4 linked regions of the Homo sapiens genome follow. The protein of the gene in region 3 purifies or fractionates together with the protein of the main gene of each other region. This does not show direct contact. Each region holds a gene or a part of one and is shown on either strand. Other genes may lie near its edges.

The links.
Region 1: the proteins of LGALS12 (region 3) and SLC38A5 purify together in Homo sapiens (affinity purification with mass spectrometry; one large-scale study listed by BioGRID and IntAct). This does not show direct contact.
Region 2: the proteins of LGALS12 (region 3) and EMB purify together in Homo sapiens (affinity purification with mass spectrometry; 3 studies listed by BioGRID and IntAct, with this or other methods). This does not show direct contact.
Region 4: the proteins of LGALS12 (region 3) and PTPRA purify together in Homo sapiens (affinity purification with mass spectrometry; one large-scale study listed by BioGRID and IntAct). This does not show direct contact.

What each region holds. Positions count from the first base shown.
Region 1 is NC_000023.11:48,467,461-48,472,249, reverse strand, and holds the start of SLC38A5 (sodium-coupled neutral amino acid transporter 5), read left to right. Parts: upstream 1-1,989; 5' UTR 1,990-2,068; intron 2,069-2,813; 5' UTR 2,814-2,915; intron 2,916-3,020; exon of another isoform or gene 3,021-3,225; coding exon of another isoform or gene 3,226-3,365; intron 3,366-3,833; exon of another isoform or gene 3,834-3,928; coding exon of another isoform or gene 3,929-3,945; exon of another isoform or gene 3,946-4,009; intron 4,010-4,324; coding exon of another isoform or gene 4,325-4,325; coding exon 4,326-4,378; intron 4,379-4,464; coding exon 4,465-4,540; intron 4,541-4,789. UniProt on the Homo sapiens protein: Symporter that cotransports neutral amino acids and sodium ions, coupled to an H(+) antiporter activity. Releases L-glutamine and glycine from astroglial cells and may participate in the glutamate/GABA-L-glutamine cycle and the NMDA receptors activation.
Region 2 is NC_000005.10:50,406,789-50,411,104, forward strand, and holds part of EMB (embigin precursor), read right to left. Parts: intron 4,178-4,316; coding exon 4,089-4,177; intron 1-4,088. UniProt on the Homo sapiens protein: Plays a role in the outgrowth of motoneurons and in the formation of neuromuscular junctions.
Region 3 is NC_000011.10:63,503,865-63,509,628, forward strand, and holds the start of LGALS12 (galectin-12), read left to right. Parts: upstream 1-2,219; 5' UTR 2,220-2,528; coding exon of another isoform or gene 2,529-2,594; coding exon 2,595-2,663; intron 2,664-4,122; exon of another isoform or gene 4,123-4,688; coding exon 4,689-4,777; intron 4,778-4,910; coding exon of another isoform or gene 4,911-4,913; coding exon 4,914-5,127; intron 5,128-5,764. UniProt on the Homo sapiens protein: Binds lactose. May participate in the apoptosis of adipocytes.
Region 4 is NC_000020.11:3,029,665-3,033,980, forward strand, and holds part of PTPRA (receptor-type tyrosine-protein phosphatase alpha isoform 1 precursor), read left to right. Parts: intron 1-4,316. UniProt on the Homo sapiens protein: Tyrosine protein phosphatase which is involved in integrin-mediated focal adhesion formation.

The sequences.
Region 1 (4,789 bases), on a different chromosome or scaffold from region 3:
TTTTTTTTTTTTTTGAGATGGAGTCTCACTCTGTCGCTTGGGCCGGAGTGCAGTGGCGCGATCTTGGCTCACTGCAACCTCCGCCTTCCAGGTTCAAGCAATTCTCTTGCCTCAGCCTCCCGAGTAGCTGGGATTACAGGAACCCGCCACCACGCCCAGCTAATTTTTTTTGTATTTTTAGTAGAGACGGGGTTTCGCCACGTTGGCCAGGCTGGTCTCGAACTACTGACCTCATGATTCACTCACCTTGGCCTCCCAAAGTGCTGGGATTACAGGCATGAACCACTGCACCCGGCCCAACTCATACCTTTTTTTTTTTTTTTTTTTTGGCAACCGTGTGCATTGGTACTGTCTGTCGGTGCAGTTCATCTATATGTTGTTGTGTGTGTGTGTTGCTTGGGTGTTTGTCTCCTTTGTAATGGTCGTGGGTGACAAGTGTGTCAGAGTACTTGTCCCTCCTATATGTGTATCTATGCGCACGTATCTTTCTTTGTGTGTCTGCTGCTGTATTTGTGTCTCTTCTTAGCGAGTGGCTGCAGGTATGTGTGCCCTCGGGGTGTTTCTTCTGGTGCCATGGTATGAGTACTATCTGGTTCTCTTGTTTTTTCCTTGTGTAGCTTTCAGTGTGGTTTCTGGATTTTTTCTTTGCAACGATAGTAAGCGTACTCTGCATTCCTGTGCTTTGTGTTTGTGTGCAGGTATATGCTTTCCCTATATGTTTCTTTTCTGACTTGATTTGTGACTAGCTGTGTGTGTACACGGCTGTGTGCAGCCATTTGCTGAAATGCAGTTGTGTGTGTGTGTGTGTGTGAGAGAGAGAGAGAGAGGAGAGAGAGAGAGAAGGAGACTATGGCTTTTCTGTTTGTACAAAAATCATGTCAGCCTATGAGTGCCTCTCTCTGTGACTGGAGCTGTATGTGGTTACATGTGGTCACAAGTGCACATTCAAGTTCACATACACAGAGATATCATTTTAGGGCTTGAACCTGGAAGTTTGCCTCCAGGGTCATCTGAACCTGGATTCAGGTTCAGATCCAGGGCCATCTGAACCTGGATCGTGTGTGTGGGAAAGACCCAGGACCCACACACAATGTCATCAGCTGTGTGTAATTGTGTGCTCTGTGTGTGGCTGTGAATCTGTGTGTGTGATTTGCCTGTTGATTGTCTTTGGCATGGCTGTGGGTCCACGGGCGGTGAGGTTCAGGAGTCTCGAGTGTCTGGAAATCGGCACAAGCCTATCCCTGTGTTAGTCTGTGCTCTCTGTGAGCGGCTCTGAGCCTGTCGGTATTGATAGCTGTAAGACTATCGTCACTCTGTGTGGCCACGTGTGTGACTGTCCCATGAGCCATTGCTCTTAACGTGCAGTGGTGAGTCTGTGTGTGTTCATGTCTGTCAGTCTTTATTCTCTTGTGTGGCTGTGAGTCTTTGTGCACCTCTGTGAGTGATGGCGAGTTGGCCCCCGTATCTGAGCCCCTTGATGGGGCTGTGATGGGTCCTGTTGTGTAGCTGCGATTCCTGAGTGTGCAGGAGTCTCTCTCCCGCTGTGGGGAAGTAAACGCCCCATCCCTTGTCCTCCTCCAACTGTGGGTGGGGTGAGGGCATCTAGGCCAGCTTTGAAGCCCCAGCCAGCTCCTGGCCTTTCCGGGAATTCTGTGTTCCCTGTCGGGGGTGGGCAGGCGGGCGAGGGGCCCAGACAGAGGCCTCTTGTCCACCTGGGCTTCAAGCAGCCCAGTCGAGGTGGTCCCAGACCCCAAGTCCACCCTGCCTGACATCCTGTAGCGGACACGTGGCTTGCCTGGGACAGGCATGCCTGTCATATGCCTGGAGGGGAGTGAACAGACGGACTCCCATAGAAGACAGACGGACAGACAGATAGTGGGACTTCTCAGGGCTTGGACAAGCCCCACCCCACGCTTGGGGTGGGGTCCAGGACTACAGTGCCCGCCCAGTTTGCGGACAGTGTGAGTTCACAGTCCACATTCCCCACCCAGCCACAAATGCCCTCCCTGCCTCCCTCTGGGGGCCCCCAAGATCTAGGGTCCTCTCGTGCCTAGGCTGTCTGCCTGAGGTCTGCCTGGAATAGCCTGGCTACTACCCCTGCACCTGTTCCCCTGCTGTCCCCAGGCCTCTCTGCCTGAATCTGCCTCTCTCTGCCTCTTTTCTCCTGTCCCTCCAGGAGTCTCTCTGCCTCAACCACTCTCTCTGCCCCTTCATCTCTCTGAGCTGGTGTGTCTGGTCCTACCCTCTGTTTGGGGAGCTGTCTGGCTCTGTCCCCCACCTCTTGGCCAGCCTGTGTCTCCTGTCTATGACTGAGCCCAATTGCCTGTTGCCTTTCTGCAGGTGTTTCCACGAGCCTATCCCTACCCACCTGTTTGTTTCTGAGTCTGCCTGTGTGTCCCTTTCTCCCTGTCTCTGCCTGTCTTCCAAGCTCCCCTAGCATCCCCTCCTCCCGCCCATCTGTCTTTCTGTCCCTTCTGTGGTCTGTCTGTTCCTGTGCTGTTTCTCATGCCTGCTTTCTTTGTAACTTCAGTTCTCCTACTCTCTCTCTGTCTCCTCTCTGCACCTTTTTCTGCCATCCATCCCATCCTGCTGTCCGTCTGCTCTGTGAGTCCATCCCCTCTGTCTGCCTGTCACTCTCTCTAGCTGTGGGTCTACACCCTCAATCTTTCAGGCCATTTCCCCCACCATCAACACACAAACAAACCGCTGTCTCCCTCCAAGTGGGTCCAGATAGGGGGCGCCCCTTCTCCACCTCTTCCCCCGCCCAGGGCCAGAAGGAGGGAAACGAAATTAAAATTAACATTTCTTCTCAGGAAAAAAAAAAAAGTACCGCTCCAGAGCAGGAGCCTAGGCAGCCGAGAGGGTGCCCGAACCTGAGTCTGAGTTGCGGCCACTTCAGGAGCTGAGAGGAGCAGGTAGGTGAGGAGGGAGCGTGGGCTGCGGGGATGGTGTTCCTGGGGGCCTGAGATATGAGTAGGGGTCCTGGGAGGGGGCTCGGGGTTCCTTGGAGACATTTTAGCACTAGTGGGGAATGGAATGGCGTGTATGGGGAGGTCCTTTTTGTACCCTGATCCCAGGAAGTGAATTCAGGTGTGGGTGGGAGGCTCCGGAGGGTGCTGGTGGTGGGGGATGGGACTCCTTGAGACCCTCCCTGTCCCAGGAACGGGATTCAGGACTTGGGAAAAGGATTTCCTGAGCCAGTTTGAGCTCTAATGGGGACCTTGAATGGGGGTTTCTGAGATACCTCCTTCCCAAGGAGTAAGCGCGGGAGGGAGCTGGGGTTTCTTCAGAGACGCTGTACCTACAAGACAGGGGCTCCAGGCTCGGGTGGGGATTGCAGAGACACCCCCACCCCAGGAAACTCGGTAGGCCACGGGAGGGGGTCTTTGATGAAGGTCTCAGAAATAGCTCTTCCTCCGGAGGGAAATGAGGGCTCGGGCCAGGTTCCTGAGACACCCCACACCCCACACCTAGGAAGTTTCTCAAGTCTGGCAGTGTCTCCAAATTGACTTCTGCCAGAAGATGAGTGTTTAAGACTTGCTAGGGGCCCTGGAAAAGACCTCTAGGCCCTAGAATTGGGGTCAAATGGGAGTCCCTGGGTCATTTCTGTCCCTGGGAAGGGGCTCGGTTCGGGCACTTGTCTTTGGCTTCTAGTGAGGATATTCAGAGTCGTGGCAGAGAGCAGTTTGCAGCGTCTGGGGCAGGGGTCTCCGAGTCTGTCCCCAACCCTCAGCTCACTCAACAGGTTGCATTAGCTCTGGTCTCGGGCTTGGGGGCCCAGGCGGGAAGGAGGGGGGTGAGGGCATTAGGAGGGGTGGGGCAGCCAGGCCGACACGTGTCCCTGCAAGGAGTGAGCCGCCTGGCCACGCGGTGAGGGTGGAGGGAAGGAGAGGGGGTGGCGCGGGGGACCGGGGAATGAAAGACACAGATGGCAAGAGAGACAGCGTGAGTCTGGGGTCTGGGAGGAGAGGCTATCCCTTCTCCACGTGGTCGGCTCATCTGCGCTGGGGTCCGGCTCTCTCTGTAGCTTTCTGTCTCTCTCTTCCCCACTATTTCTCTCTCACTGGCTCTCTCTGTGTCTCTCTGAGTAACTAACTGTTGGCTTCTCTCCTTCTCTGATTTTTGTTCTTCTCTCTCTCTCATCTCTTTCTCTGTCAGTCTGCCTCCATTTCTATCCCTGTCTGTTCCTGCTCCCCTGCCTTGTCTCTTTCTCCGTCTTTCCATCGGTCTCTATGGGACTCCCCTCCCCCCTTCTTCAGCTCCCCTCACTTTGAAGCATGCTCGTTCCATCTCTGATCCCCCCACCCCATTTCTTTGCCCACAGGATGGAACTGCAGGATCCAAAGATGAATGGAGCCCTCCCTTCGGATGCTGTGGGGTGAGTCAGGGGTCCAAGGAGGTGGGCTCAGGGATCAGGGGTCAGGATTTCCCTCTTATCGGCCCCTATTTCCCTGCCCTATCCAGCTACAGGCAAGAACGTGAGGGCTTCCTGCCCAGTCGTGGTCCTGCTCCTGGGAGCAAGCCGGTCCAGTTCATGGATGTGAGTGGCCCCACAGGATCTGTCCTGGTGGCACCTTCCCCAGCTAATCTCCTCCCGCACTGCTCCCTCTTCCCCACTCCTCCTCCTCCCTGCTGTTCCCCTGCCCAGCTATCTCCCCAGCACAGCTACACACTACTTGGTCGCTCCCCTCTCCAGATACTCCTCTTCCCCAGATATGCCCTTTCCAGCTCTCTCCCTGGCCTTGTTTCTCCCCACCCGCTCTTCGGCCCAGTGACTGCCCTCCCTGGC
Region 2 (4,316 bases), on a different chromosome or scaffold from region 3:
TTACTTTTTTCATTTATATGTTTAGTTTGCCAGTAGGGAAAGAATGGATGAAATCATGTCAACTAAAGACCTGCAGATAAGCAGAGATTGGAGCTTGGCTAAAATAGGGATTCTTTGCTGAAGCCACAAGTTTCCCTACAACCTGAGAGGAAGAGCAGCCACACTTCCTGAGTTCCATCTGAAGAGGCACAAGATGCACTAGTGCATTACTAGGGCAATGACCTCAACAGCCCTGTTAGGCTCACCTTAAAACAAACACTGTTTTGGAGTGCAGGCTTTGCATTAGACACTCAGTAATTAAGGACACAGTTTCCGCTTTCCCAGGTTGTTTATCTCTCAGATATCCTATTTCTCAATCTCTACATGTTTCTTTCTGGCAATTGAGTCATGCTTTAGCATGAAAATATGTGTTGAAATAGGTTCAAAATACCAAAATTTACCCACAGGCTAAGAATAAAATGTGGAAGAAAGGTAATTCTTGGGGAAAAACCTGGCAGAATATACACTGCTTTTCAGTATTCCTTGAAGAGCTACCTGCTTGGGAAGCATAATGGAAGCTGCGAGGCGCTTTTCAAGAAAGTTGAGTATTCTGAGATTTGATGAGGAACACATGACTATGTTATTAAACCATCCCAACTAAATATTAAGATCAGGCTGTAAATTGCAGGTAGCTGACAATGACTGAGTGACAACATGGAAAAGCTGAAACCAAAATTCTGTTTTCTTGCCATCTCTTCAGTTTTCTTGATTATCCCCTAGACTAATGACTAAAATACCATAAACCATGCTTTTGTTCTGCTATATATGGCTAATAACAGCAGTGTGGATTTAAATTATAAAATGCACTATGTTCAGGGAACATGACATTTGTTTGAACTATTCTGGGGTTCAGGGCCACAGCTTATATTTGGAAATATTTACTAATATAAGGACAGTGAGACAGTATTCTAATGTGCCCTGTCGACCTTTTAAGACTTTGCATAAAGTAGGATGCATACGAGTGCTACGGTTGGAATAAACCAGGTTTGAAGGTGGTGAAATTGCTGATTCAGGCTAGTTTCTAGGAAGATGGGGTTTGGATATACCCAGTGAAAGTAACAGCTCTCTGGAGTTGTAAAATTGGAGACTATATTTGTATATTCATGAACTAGAACAAATTGGCCTAAATGTCATATTGGTTCAAAGACTTTTAGGTACCACTAAATTAGGAAAAAAGATTACTCCATGTAGTAAAAGAATGCTAACTATACTTCAACACTGGGATCCAGGGCTGAAGTCCTAGCTGATTCTATTATGCTACCTTTCCATACTTTATATTTTTAGATACTTCCAGGGGAAGACAGATAGTTGAGCTTTGACAGGCTTCACTACATTTGGTACTATCAAAATCTCATCATGACTTCCAAAAAGTTCTTGTTCTTTACCAATTAAATTTCTGCATACTTTCTACTAAGAGATTTTAACACTGATAAATATTATGGAAGCTTTCAGCAACCACTCAGAATATTTGATCCACTACTGAGAAACACTATAGACCATCACTCATCTTTCTCTTTCTCGGGTGGCAAGTAATCAGCAACTTATTAGCAGTCACAAACTTCCAGTGTACACTTTTGCTGTCTCCTCTGTCCTGGCATCAAGAGCGAAACACATAAAGTCAGCAGGTTTTTGTGCATTGAACTAATCAGTAATCTTGAGGGCCTTTTACAACTTTGTAGTAGTAAATCAACCAGCACCCATAAAGACAGCAGCAGGGACTTTGCTGATGAATTGTTCTGAAGACTCAGGCTCATGCACTATAGGTGGCTCATGTAGTCAATGGCAGAAAAATTTATCTTTGGTTCAATTTAAAATAGAGAATAAAACAGTCTTTTCATCTACATGCAGTTGTAAGTCTTCTAAGAAAAGATAATTATTCTTCTTAGGAAAAACCATTAAGTAAACCATATGGAGAAATAATATAATAGGACATTTATAAAAATACACACCATTTTATAAGCCTTTCAGACCTATTAAATAACTATAATATCCATAATGTACAGATGTCTTTAAATACTACTCAAGTAAAAATTATTTCTGTAAGCAATATTCAATTTAGATGAATTATAGGGAATTTTTATTTTACCAAGGAAGATTTAAAAGGACCCAACTTATTAATTTTATAAATATCTTCAAGATATAATACATACTTAAAAGTTACATTAATGTTAAAGGGGCATTAAAAACAAATTAGCTAACCTAAACTGCTTCAAGACAACTAGAAAAGAAAAAAAAGTAAATGTTCAGTGATTCTTTGCTTTCCTTAAAGCCTTGATTTAAATCCTAGGCCTTGGGTCAGCGCTGCTGACACCAGCCAAAATCAGCTTAGTTATCTCAAAACAGTTGGAGAATCAAGAGGCCTTCCGTGTGAATACTTGCAATTCAATGTATTGGTATGTTGAAAAGTAAAATGCTTGTTAATCTTCACATTAGACACAAGAATGGTCACTTCCACATAATAATTTAAGTAATTATCAAAACTAATGAGAAAAATGTGTTATCTTCAATATTGAAAGCAGGTATGACTAGTATATATTTCCAGAGCACAATGTCTTAGAAAAAAAAAGAAAAAAGTGTTTAAAGTTGAATATCTTGGGAGCACTTTAAGTCACAAGATTCTGTGAGCATTTCCTCAGAATCTGTAGGCCTTCTTTACATATTTTTTAAAAACTCAATAAAACATGTTCACTGAAATTTTGTGTGTTTAGTATTATTTTTTGCTCATTGGGAAGAAAAAGAGAAAGGGAGGAAAAAAGGAAGGAAGGAGGCAGGAAGGGAAGGAAGGAAATGAACTCAAAAGGTGGGAGGGAAGAAAGGACAGAAAAAGGGAAAGGAAAAGAGAGATTAAGGAAAGAGGAGGGGAAGGGCAGATGGGGCAGGGGAGGGAAAAATGAAATGCATAAGGAAAAGGAAACTGAAAGGAAATGTATATGGTGTTATCTAGTCCTTCACCAAGTTAAAGGCAAATGGAGGGAAAAAAGTTAAGAAAGAATATACATGACTAAAATAATCAAAGAATGATACTAGTTTCTGCTTTTGGAGAGACCAAGATATATAAATACAAGAATTTATTATATTCACCACATTGGAACAATTACAAAGACATAAAAATAAAATGACTCTGTGAGTGCAGAAGGGATGCAATGAGGGACACAGGAGTGAACCATTAGATCATGGCAATGGTGAAGCAAGCCATTCTGCTATTGATGGAGCCTTGAGAATAGCATCCACATTCTGTCACAGCAGACAGTCGGGCTTTAGGAGTTTTAGGAAAAGTTACAACAATTTTCATGTTTCCTGGGGAATTAATGCAAAGCAGAGTCCGACGTAGTTAATATGGCGACAGATTGCATTTCCCAAATACCAGCACGATAATATGGTTCACTAATCACCACAAAATACTGGGTTTTTCATAATGATAATTATCTAACTCAAATAACTAGTCTTTATTATGAGATTGAGACCTTCTTGAGTTTTGGTTTAATGATGGTAACAGTAAAATATTTTAATTCGTTTGTTTCCAAGCAAAAGAAATGTGGATGATATTCTGTGGCTTGTATATATCTTTAAACCTCCTTACTTGGTGAGATAAAAAGTAGGCAACCGTTTGTGCATCTCCATATTATTTTTAAGTTTTATGGATCCTAAAATCCCATGTCCTGGAGCTATGGATATAGAACATCAACCCACACTCTCAGAGGCTGGGACCACAATAACTTAGAAACGTGGAGGACTATTATAAGAGCTATGAATTTAGAGAGATAAATAAAGAAATTCAGGCAACTGATATAATTCACTAATAATGTGGTAGGCTGGCCTTTTGAACTAAAACATGTGCTTTAAATTGAGGAATAGAAGCAGGAAGGAAGTGGACTTGGGGGATACAAGACCATTTTCAAGGCTGCCTCTTGTGGCTCTGGAAAGCATATGACTTTCTTTCAGCTACATTATGTTTATTATTGTAAAAATAATTTTAAAATTACAGGATTGAGAAATCTAAGAACATAATGCTGAAGTTATTAACTATTCCTCAAGTTATTAATACTGACCTTTGAAATTAAATGTTCCCCTTTGTTCCTTTTCCTCTCGAAAGAAACAAGAATAACTTCCCATTTGTTTGCTATTAATGATGGTGAACCTAAAGATAATTCAAGTTATTAATATAGGCTTAGTTCTCAAAACCTTAATGAAAATGAAAAGACTTAGCCATTAATAAAAATTTAAAAAGAGAAATAATTCTGTAAATATGCAAATTAGAATATTAGCATAACATTCAA
Region 3 (5,764 bases):
TAACCTGAGAAACAGTTCAGACTGTGATGGGAAGTGGGGGTTGGATATGCCTTATTATGCCCTCTCCCCCTTTGAAATTCAGGCACAACTGACCAGCATTAACATTAAAACAAAAATCTGAAGACTGACTAAACAGACTCATTGTAGCAATAAGACACCAAGTTCTATCCTGGCTCTAGTATAGCATCACATGACAGAGGGCCCTGAAAGAAATTAAACCATTTTACCCCAAAATATTAATATACATATTTGACATATTTTGAAATGGCCCTGCAAACCTCACTCTTGTGGGGAAAATCTGCTCTGCAAAGCATCCCCTTCCCTTTCCAAGTCTTTTCCCTGATCCAGGCATCTTTTTAGGTCTGATAAGAGCTCTGATGCCTGCTTCCTGGAGGCTTCATCTGCATGATAAAACCTTGGTCTCCACACCCCTTAACTTAACCCAGACACTCCCTTCTACTGAGTCCAGGTCTGTAGGTACTTACTTAACTCTTTCAACCAATAACCAATCAGGAAGTCTTTGAATCCACCTATGACCTGGAAGCCCACCTCTTCGAGTTGTGCCACCTTTCTGGACCAAACCAATGTACATATCACATGTATTGCTTGATGTCTCATGTCTCCCTAAAATGTATAAAACCAAAATCTAGCTCAATAACCTTGAGCACACGTTCTCAGGATCTCCTGGGGCTGTGTCACAGGCCATTGGTCACTCATATTTGGGTCAGAATAAATCTCTTCAACTATTTCAGAATTTGACTCTTTTCTTCAAGAAACTGGCCCCTCCACCCTTAGCTTCCTCTCACTGTGTATACAGAGCACCCTTCCTGAGCACGTCTGATTGAATTTCTCCAAATAAGCACCTTCAGTAACCCAGCTCCACCTACTCGGCAACATCTGAACAAACTCAGCTCCGCACCCAAAGCCCTTCTAGTTCCATCCTAAGTCAATGCTTCTCAAACTTTAAAGTGCATCAGAATCACCTGGAGGGGCTGTTAAAATGCAGATTCCTGGCCCCAGCTTCCAGAGAGTGCTCCTCAGTTGGTCTGGGGTGGGGACCCCAAACTTGCATTTTTAACAAGTTTCCAGGTGAGGCTGATGCTGGTGGCTTGTGGACCACAGCTTAGGTAGCACTGGCTAAGATACCTTATCCCAGGACCCTTCATGCACTCTCCCTCCATCCAGGGAGCTGCTTACTCTGCCCTCAGCACCCCATGCGCTTGAGCCTTTGCCCAGCCTGGTCCTGGTCCAGGAATTCCCTGCTGCCAAGTCTGATGCAATGGGTCAGATCCTGGAACCTCCTAACTCAGGATAAAGTTGAGAGGTTGTGCTGCTTTTTAAAGGGAAAGCCTTATTGGGATTTGAACCAGAACTGGAAGGACTGTAGTAAAATGCAGATATTTGGGCCCACCCCCAGATACAGGCCTCGCTGTGGGACATGCTGCTATGGTCACTTTCTCCATGTACAGATGAACAAAGGGTGGCCCAGAGATAGGAAGTGACTTTCCCAAGGGCACACAGCACATTAGACGAGAGGCTGAAGAGGAAGTCAAGTTTCAAGTCTCCCTCCTGCGCAGTTCTGTGCTTCTTGTGCTGCCTTTTCCAAGCTTAAGGGGCTCTGCTTTTTCCCCTTCCCTCATTCTACTTTCTTGTGACCCCAGCTGGGCCCCAGCATTTCCAGCTGATGCTGAAATGGAGCCTCAGGGGGCTGTAAAACTTGGAAAAGGAAGAAGAGTAGAGGAAGGGGCAAGAAAATGAGAGGAAGAGAGCCAGGCGTGGTGGCTCATGCCTGTAATCCCAGCACTTTGGGAGGCCAAGGCGGGCGGATCACGAGGTCAGGATATCGAGACCATCCTGGCCAACATGGTGAAACTCAGTCTTTACTAACAATACAAAAATTAGCCGGGCGTGGTGGCACATGCCTGTAGTCCCAGAGAGGATGAGGCAGGAGAATTGCTTGAACCCAGGAGGCGGAGGCTGCAGTGAGCTGAGATCGCGCCACTGCGCTGCAGCCTGGCAAGAGAGCAAGACTCCATCTCAAAAAAAAAAAAAAAAAAAGAAAATGAGGGGAAGAGATAAAACCCTTTGTGGTGAAGGGAGGAAGGAATGGGAAGTCACCCAAGGCTGTCCAGGGAGCTGGGGGTGGGGCTGTTTCTGGAACCTAAGCACACGTACCACCTCCCCTTCCTCTGACCTAATGAGGGCTCGAGTTGGAAACCACAAACCCTCGTTGGCCCCACAGGAGCCAGCCTCTGGCTTCTCTCTGCAATGGCCATGTGCTGCAGACCCGGAGTGGGTAGTTAGTTGGTTAATGCCAGTCTTCCTCCCCTGGACACTGAGTTCTGCTGACAGCCCCCGCCCAGCCAGAGCTCTGCTGTATACCACCGGGAGTGGGGCTGGTGTGGAGCCTGGAGGTCGCCCGCTGCCCTCCTAGGGCTGCTCCAGACAGCATTAAAACGCTGCAGGTCGCAGGTGAGACTAACAGCTGGGAGAGCTGCTCCAGGCATTTAGGACCCTGACTGGGGCAGATGAGTCAGCCCAGTGGGGGCAGGGCTCCTGGAACGAGGATCTACAGTTGGAGTTGCCCCACTGTCATGTCACCTGGAGAAAAACTGGACCCAATTCCTGACAGCTTCATTCTGCAACCACCAGTCTTCCACCCGGTGAGTTGTCACTCTAATGTGGAACCTCCTCGGTCTCTGGGCTCTTCCCTTCCAACTGGGCCCACACTCCTGGGTGGTGGGGTGGAAAGGACCTCAGTCTTTCTGCTTCTCCCAGCACCTGCCCTGGGTTCTGGAAGGCCCTCCTGAGCTTAGTAAAGTGGCTGACTGCTAATTCCCACTTGGGTGTAAATGACTGCTAGGCTTCCAGGGTCACTGCATTTTGAAAGTGGCGAAGCCTGGAGCCACAGTGCTCTGCCCCTACTGTAATGGATGCTAGGAGGATGAGGGTGTGGGGGTAGGATTGTTGGGGGAATGCTGATTACTTAGTAAGGACAGTCTCATCCCCAGCCTGGAAGGAAGGGTCAGGTGGGAATTTCCACTCAGGGATAGGGGTTGGGGGTGTTTCTCTCTTTCTCCTCCAGCTCAGTCAGTGCCCAAGAGGTTTTCTGAAGCCAGGCAATGATTTACAGAAGGCTGAATTCCCAGCAGACACCCCCTACTAATGAGCATTAATTATCACTTTCCCTTACTTGGCCCTCCCCTCCCATGAGAGCTGCATCCACTCAGTTAATTACAGGCCTGGAGGGAGCCTGGGAATGGGAAGTGATCAACTGCTGAACCAACCAGCTGAGCTTGCCAAGCTGGCATCCCAAGCCTCCCTCCCATGCTTCTCAGGTGCCTGAGGAATGGGCTGAAGCAGCTGCCCAGGTTACGGCAGCTCCTTGCTTTAGAGGCTGAGAGCTCGCACCTGGAGGGCCATCCTGGTGGTTTTCAGTTTTTTCTAGGTGGTTTGGGTTCCTAAAGGTTGTTGGGAGTTAGAGAGCAACACAGGAAGGCCAATCCTGTGATACCACTGGTATGTACCTGCCATCCTGCTCACATTCATTCCAAACACATCTATGCAGAGCCCTCACGGCGTCAGGTGAGGCACTGAGCCTACAGGAGGGAAAGAGAAGGCTTCAGTTTTGAGGGGCTTATAAACTAGGGAAAAAAGCCAACCAGTCGCTCTAAGCCAAGGGCCAAGCCAGCCACATGAGCAAAATGCCCTGGGAGCTCAGGGGAAGAAAGGAATAATCCAAGGAACCCAAGTGGATGATGCTTGGAAAGAGTCAGGGTGGAAAGAGACAGGAGGAACAGCCCAGAAAAGGCAGGAAGTTGTAAAACTGTATGATGTATTTTAGGAAGGCCAGGCAACTTCTTTTTTTTTTTTTTTTTTTTTTTTTTTGAGACCAAGTCTTGCTTTTTCGCCCAGGCTGAAGTACAGTGGCATGATCTCAGCTCACTGCAACCTCCTCCATCTCCCAGGCTCAAGCAATTCTCCTGCCTCAGCCTCCTGAGTAGCTGGGATTAGAGGTGCATGCCACCACACCCAGCTAATTTTTGTATTTTTAGTAGAGATAGGGTTTCACCATGTTGGCCAAGCTGGTCTCGAACTCCTGACCTCAAGTTGATCCACCCGCCTCAGCTTCCCAGAGTGCTGAGATTACAGGCATGAGCCACAGAGCCCAGCCCAGGTAACTTCTACATGGGGAAAGGTGAGCCTGGGAAGGCCATTGTTAAGTGCCTCTCCAGGGGTCCATTTCAGAGTTAGCTGTCAGTTCCTAACTTGTCCATTCTTCTTGCCTCCCAGTTCCTAGTCTCCAGCCACTCAACAGTCCTCAGAAAGCCCCAGTACCAGGCTTCTGGGGACCAGGGTGACATCTAGTGGATGGCAAGCCTCCCTGGGGTCACTGCAGCCTGTTGTGTCCTAGGAGCTGGGGAAAGGCAACTGGCTGGTGCTGAATTTGGCAAGGGAGCGGAATTTGACTTCTCTGGTGTAATGCAGCTTTGCCGTGTGACGGTCCAGGAAAGGGGATTAGGTGGAAGAAAATATTTCAGTGAACACTGATTTTTACCTATAAGGAATTTTCTGTTTGGAGAGGAAAAGTTGAGTTTTATTCTGCTCCTTTCCTCCCACTCGCCTGACATAGAGGTCCCTAAGCCCTTTCTCCAAACCTGCATGGATGAGTTTCTTTTCTTGTTCAGGTGGTTCCTTATGTCACGACGATTTTTGGAGGCCTGCATGCAGGCAAGATGGTCATGCTGCAAGGAGTGGTCCCTCTAGATGCACACAGGTAAGGCGGGGGAGGTGGCCCAGGGGGTGCTGGAGCTCAGCCCTAGAGGCATCGAGCTGGAGGGCTCCTCCCTGCCACTGAGATCTCTGTGGGTCTCTGGTCAGAACCGCACTTTGAGAGCCTCACCTCCCAGTAGGTTTCAGGTGGACTTCCAGTGTGGCTGCAGCCTGTGTCCCCGGCCAGATATCGCCTTCCACTTCAACCCTCGCTTCCATACCACCAAGCCCCATGTCATCTGCAACACCCTGCATGGTGGACGCTGGCAAAGGGAGGCCCGGTGGCCCCACCTGGCCCTGCGAAGAGGCTCCAGCTTCCTCATCCTCTTTCTCTTCGGGAATGAGGAAGTGAAGGTGAAGGAAGGGACGGGCATTGGGTGGTCTAGAATTTGTGTCCTTGCGCCCTTCCTTCCCTCAGCCAGACTCCCCACGACACAATGTTGAGTGGCATTGGTAGTGGTCAGGTACCAAGAGGACCAAGGAGCTGCCATGCCCGGTTCCAGGCTGCCCTGGGCCCACATGGCAGCAAGAAAGCTCTACAGTGCCTGGCTCCAAAGAGGGCACTCCTGCCATAGTCATGGCAAGCACTTAGAGAGAACCTACTGTATACCAGGAACTGTTCTAAGCCCTTAAAAGTATCTGCTCATTGAATGCTCACAATAACCCCATTAGGTAGGTACCTTCATTATCCCCATCTTACAGCCACAGTGGCAGGGGAGAGGGACAGAGAACTTGATCTCAAGGTTTAGACCCCTAATGTGAGCTCCTGCCAGAAACATGATGGGATCTTCAGACATCTCCAGGAGACAGGGCAGCTGGCGGGAGGGTAGCCTCTTGAGCCTCAGTTTCCTCACGTAAATGGAGCAAAGATGACTCTTTGGGCTGCTGAGAAAGCACAATGAGGGGCCTCTGTTGGGGTAGAGGGAGCGTTGAAGGTGCCTTAGTCTCCAGGCCAGCTCTGCAACCTTTGGAAGATTACTTAAGCCGCCCA
Region 4 (4,316 bases), on a different chromosome or scaffold from region 3:
TAACTGGGATTAAAGACACCCACCATCATGCCTGGCTAATTTTTGTAGGCACGGGGTTTCACCATGTTGGCCAGGCTTGTCTCAAACTCCTGACCTCAGGTTATCTGCCTGACTCAGCCTCCCAAAGTGCTGGGATTACAGGCGTGAGCCACTGCGCCCAGTGTCTTCATCATCATTAATAACAATACTGATGAGGTGGGAGGTTCGGTTAAGGTGCTTGGCTTTGCACTCAAGGAAGCACACACCTGAGTAACAAAAGCTGTTTAGGAAATGAGCCACTGTGTTCTCAGGAGCTAGGTGCCTGTTCCTGCCGTCTCTGATCAGTCGTGATGGAACCTGCAGATCAGACCAGGGCCCTACCTGTGGTTCCTTCTGCACCCCTGCCCTTCAGATCTGTGATGGGCAGGACCAAAGAGCAGGCCGAAGAGCTGGAACCACGAGCACAAGGACCATCTCGGCCCACTGCCCTGTGATAAAATGTGGCCCAGTGAACATCTCCGCCTCTGTCCAGTCAGATGCAGGCTCTTCCATCCTTGAAAAGGACCTAGTGAGAGTAAAGGGCAGGGGGCAGGAAGCATTTCATGTGTGTGGCGGTGGGGAGAAGAGTCGTGCGCACACAAATTCTGCTGCCTGTTGAGTGAGGCCTCTCCCTCTGCCTTCCACTGTAGCTTATGCTCTGTCTTCCTAGGCCAGTGAAGCAGACAGTAGTGCTTGCCCTCAAAAGCTTCTGAGTGGATTGGAACAGGATGTTAGTGATGTTCTTTACAAGGCCTCACTGGCCCCCAAGTTCACTTTCTGTTCCATTCATGTTGTCAAGTGTAGCTCCCAGAAGTAATTAACGCACTAAGCCTAAATGATGCAATGAAAGGTGCCTACACTTATACAGTGACACTACCATCCTCACCTACAATATTAAGTTCCCAGAGAAAAAAATTCGATCCCATAATATAAATTCTGTACTTACAAATTAAAATCTCGAAGGAATTAAAAATTTTTAATTATCTCCCTCTGCTTTTTTTTTTTTTTTTTTTTTTTTTTTGAGATGGAGTCTCACTCTGTCCACCAGACTGGAGTGCAGTGGCACAATCTCAGCTCGCTGCAACCTCCACCTCCAGGGTTCAAGTGATTCTCCCACCTCAGCCTCCCGAGTAGCTGGGATTACAGGCATGCACTACCATGCCCAGCTAATTTCCATAGTAGAGACAGGGTTTCGTCATGTTGGCCATGCTGGTCTCAAACTCCTGACCCCAAGTGATCCGCCCGCCTTAGCCTCCCAGAGTGCTAAGATTACAGGCATGAGCCATTGCGCCTGGCCTCCTTCTGCTCTATTTTAATCAAAAGGGTCCACCAGGATGCCTGGGTTCCCTCAGCAGCTGCAGCTTGGACCATCATCAGCCTGGGCAGACAGAGCAGTGCCAGGAACTCCCATGCTGGGTCAACCCTAGGCCTAGCCCAACCCTAGGCCTCATCCTGCTTCTCTAAAGCATAGTGAAACCTGATAGCATTAGTCTTCACAAAGCTGTGTGTCCCCATCACCATGTCCGCCTTAGACCTCATAAGAGACATAAGACATAAGAGACTTCATGCTATCTGGTGGAAAGACAAAGTAGGAGAAAAGACAGAAAACCTTCCCTGTTTCACTTCTTTAAGATGCTATTATCTAGAGGCCGTAACGTGAACACACAAATCTGAGATGAAACTCCAGTCCCCAGCTTTTCTTCTACTGGTCTTGAATCCCCATTCCCCATCTTCTGTCCCTCACCCACTGATGACTTTAACACCTGGCTTACTGCTCCTTTTGAGCCCCTGTTCCTGACTCTGCTTTTGGAGGCATCAGTCACCATGTGGATGATCCATCTATCCTCAATCTTTCTATTCCTCAGCTTCCTCAGCCACCTGATCCCATGGTCAAGTCACCATCTGCCCTGTATCTGCACTGCCCTTGGAATCTCAACAAGGCATCCGCCCTGTTTACTGCCTCCTTCCTCCCACCTCAGTATTCTCTTTTATTCCAGTCATTTTTGTCTTCATCAAGTCCTTAGAGTTATTGATGCCTCCACTTTCTCAACATCAGTCACACCGAACATGTCCTCACCTTCCTCCTTACTCTGTGTGTTTTTGAGTTCTGTTTTTGAGCGTTTGAGTTTTCTGATTTGAGTTTTTGTGGTATGTCATTATTACCTTTCCTTATTCCCTCATGCTTTCTTACTTTCATAGCAAACTCTCTAGTAAAACCCAGTTATATGCCTCTATCTGATATAGCAAACATCACTGGGCAAAAACACAAAACAGTGCCAAATGCTCTCACACTGAACTCATGACCACAAATCTCATAGAGGTAATTGGTGCCACCTAGCAATGCTATTGCTCTTTCTTTTCTTCCTGAAACCTCCAGCATCTGCTCTTGCCTGTCCCATCATACTCACACCTTAGCTTGTGACCTGGCCTCATTCTTCTCCAAGAAATCAGACAAGAACACTGTCATCCTCCCACCCCCAAACAACCAGCCTCTTCAAATCTGTACCAACTCTATTCTCTCTTGTTACAGTGGAAAAGGGTTTCTGCATCTCTCAATCCACCTGTCCACTGTGCTCTTGGCCCCATTCCGTCCTGCCTGCTCAGGGATGTTGCTGCTATAACCATCTTCTCTCCCACCTCCATCAGCAGTTCCCCTCTTTAACCACTACTCTCATCAGCCTATACATGTTACATTTCCTATCTTTTAAAAACAAAAAATCTGCTAATCTCACTTTCCCTTCCACCTACTATCCTATTTCTCTGCACCCCTTCCCAGCAAAACTCCTTTAAAGAGTTGGCTTTCGGCCGGGCGCGGTGGCTCACGCCTGTAATCCCAGCACTTTGGGAGGCCAAGGTGGGCGGATCACAAAGTCAGGAGATCGAGACCAGCCTGGCCAACATGGCAAAACCCCATCTCTACTAAAAATACAAAAATTAGCTGGGCGCGATGGTGCATGCCTGTGATCCCAGCTACTCGGGAGGCTGAGGCAGGAGAATCGTTTGAACCAGGGAGCTGAAGGTTGCAATGAGCCAAGATCGCGCCACTGCATTCCAGCCTGGTGGCAGAGTGAGACTCCATCTCAAAAAAAAAAAAAAAAGAGTTGGCTTTCTCCCTGCAAGTTCTCTGTTCGCTCTGTTCCTTCCAGGCTTGGCCCCACTGGGACTGCTTTAGTCAAGATCACCAGTGACTGTCCTCTTGCCAAATCCAAAGGTCATTTCTCTTTTCTGATTTTTTTTTTTTTGTCCTTACAGCAGCATTTGAAAGAGTCAGTACCTCCCTCCTCTTCCTCAGAACACTTACTTCCGTAGCATCACCCCACTCACTAACCTGGCAGCTCCTTTGTTATTTCTTTGTGACCTCCTCCTCTAAAACATTGGAGTATACTAGACTCGGGCGCTAGCCCACTCTGTTTTCTTTTGACACACTAGCCCTTCAGGATCTCAGCCAGTCCTATGGCTTTAAGTACAACCCATATGCCAGGGATCCTCAATCTGCGTCTCTAGGCCAGTCACCTGTCCCCCTTCCCAATGTGGGCTCCTGATTTCCTCCTTCCCCCGACACCAGTCCACCCCACTCTTAGCCATCTAAATAAATAGTACCACCTTCTGCCCAGTTGCTCATGTCTAAAATCCGGGAGTTACCTTCCTTCCTCCCCTCTCCTCACCCCTCACATCCAGTCTGCCACTGAGTCCTGATACAGGCAGAGCCTCCCCACTTTTCTCCAGCGTAACTGCTGTCATCTGAACAAGCCCTCGTCTCTCACTGCTTGCCCGTGGGACTGTGGGCATGACTCATATGCGCAGCCTCGTCTGCAGTGGCCTGGCAACTGGTCCTCCTGCTCTCATCCTAACCCACTTTTAGTTTTTCAAATGGCAGCTGCTGGTCCTTTTGAAAATATAAATCATTGTCACTCCTTGTCTTACAAATCCTGTTTGAGGCCAGGTGCGGCAGCTCACGCCTGTAATCCCAGCACTTTGGGAGGCCGAGGCGGGTGGATCACCTGAGGTCGGGAGTTCGAGACCAGCCTGACCAACATGGAGAAACCCCGTCTCTACTAAAAATACAAAATTAGCGGGCATGGTGATGCATGCCTGTAATCTCAGCTACTGGGGAGGCTGAGGCAGGAGAATCACTTGAACCCGGGAGCCGGAGGTTGCAGTGAGCCAAGATCGCGCCATTGCACTCCAGCGTGGGCAATAAGAGTGAAGCTCCATCTCAAAAAAAAAAAAAAAAAAAATCCTCTTTGGTCTTCCAGAGATCTTGAGAGAAAATCCGCCCATGTATACAAAATTTAGAG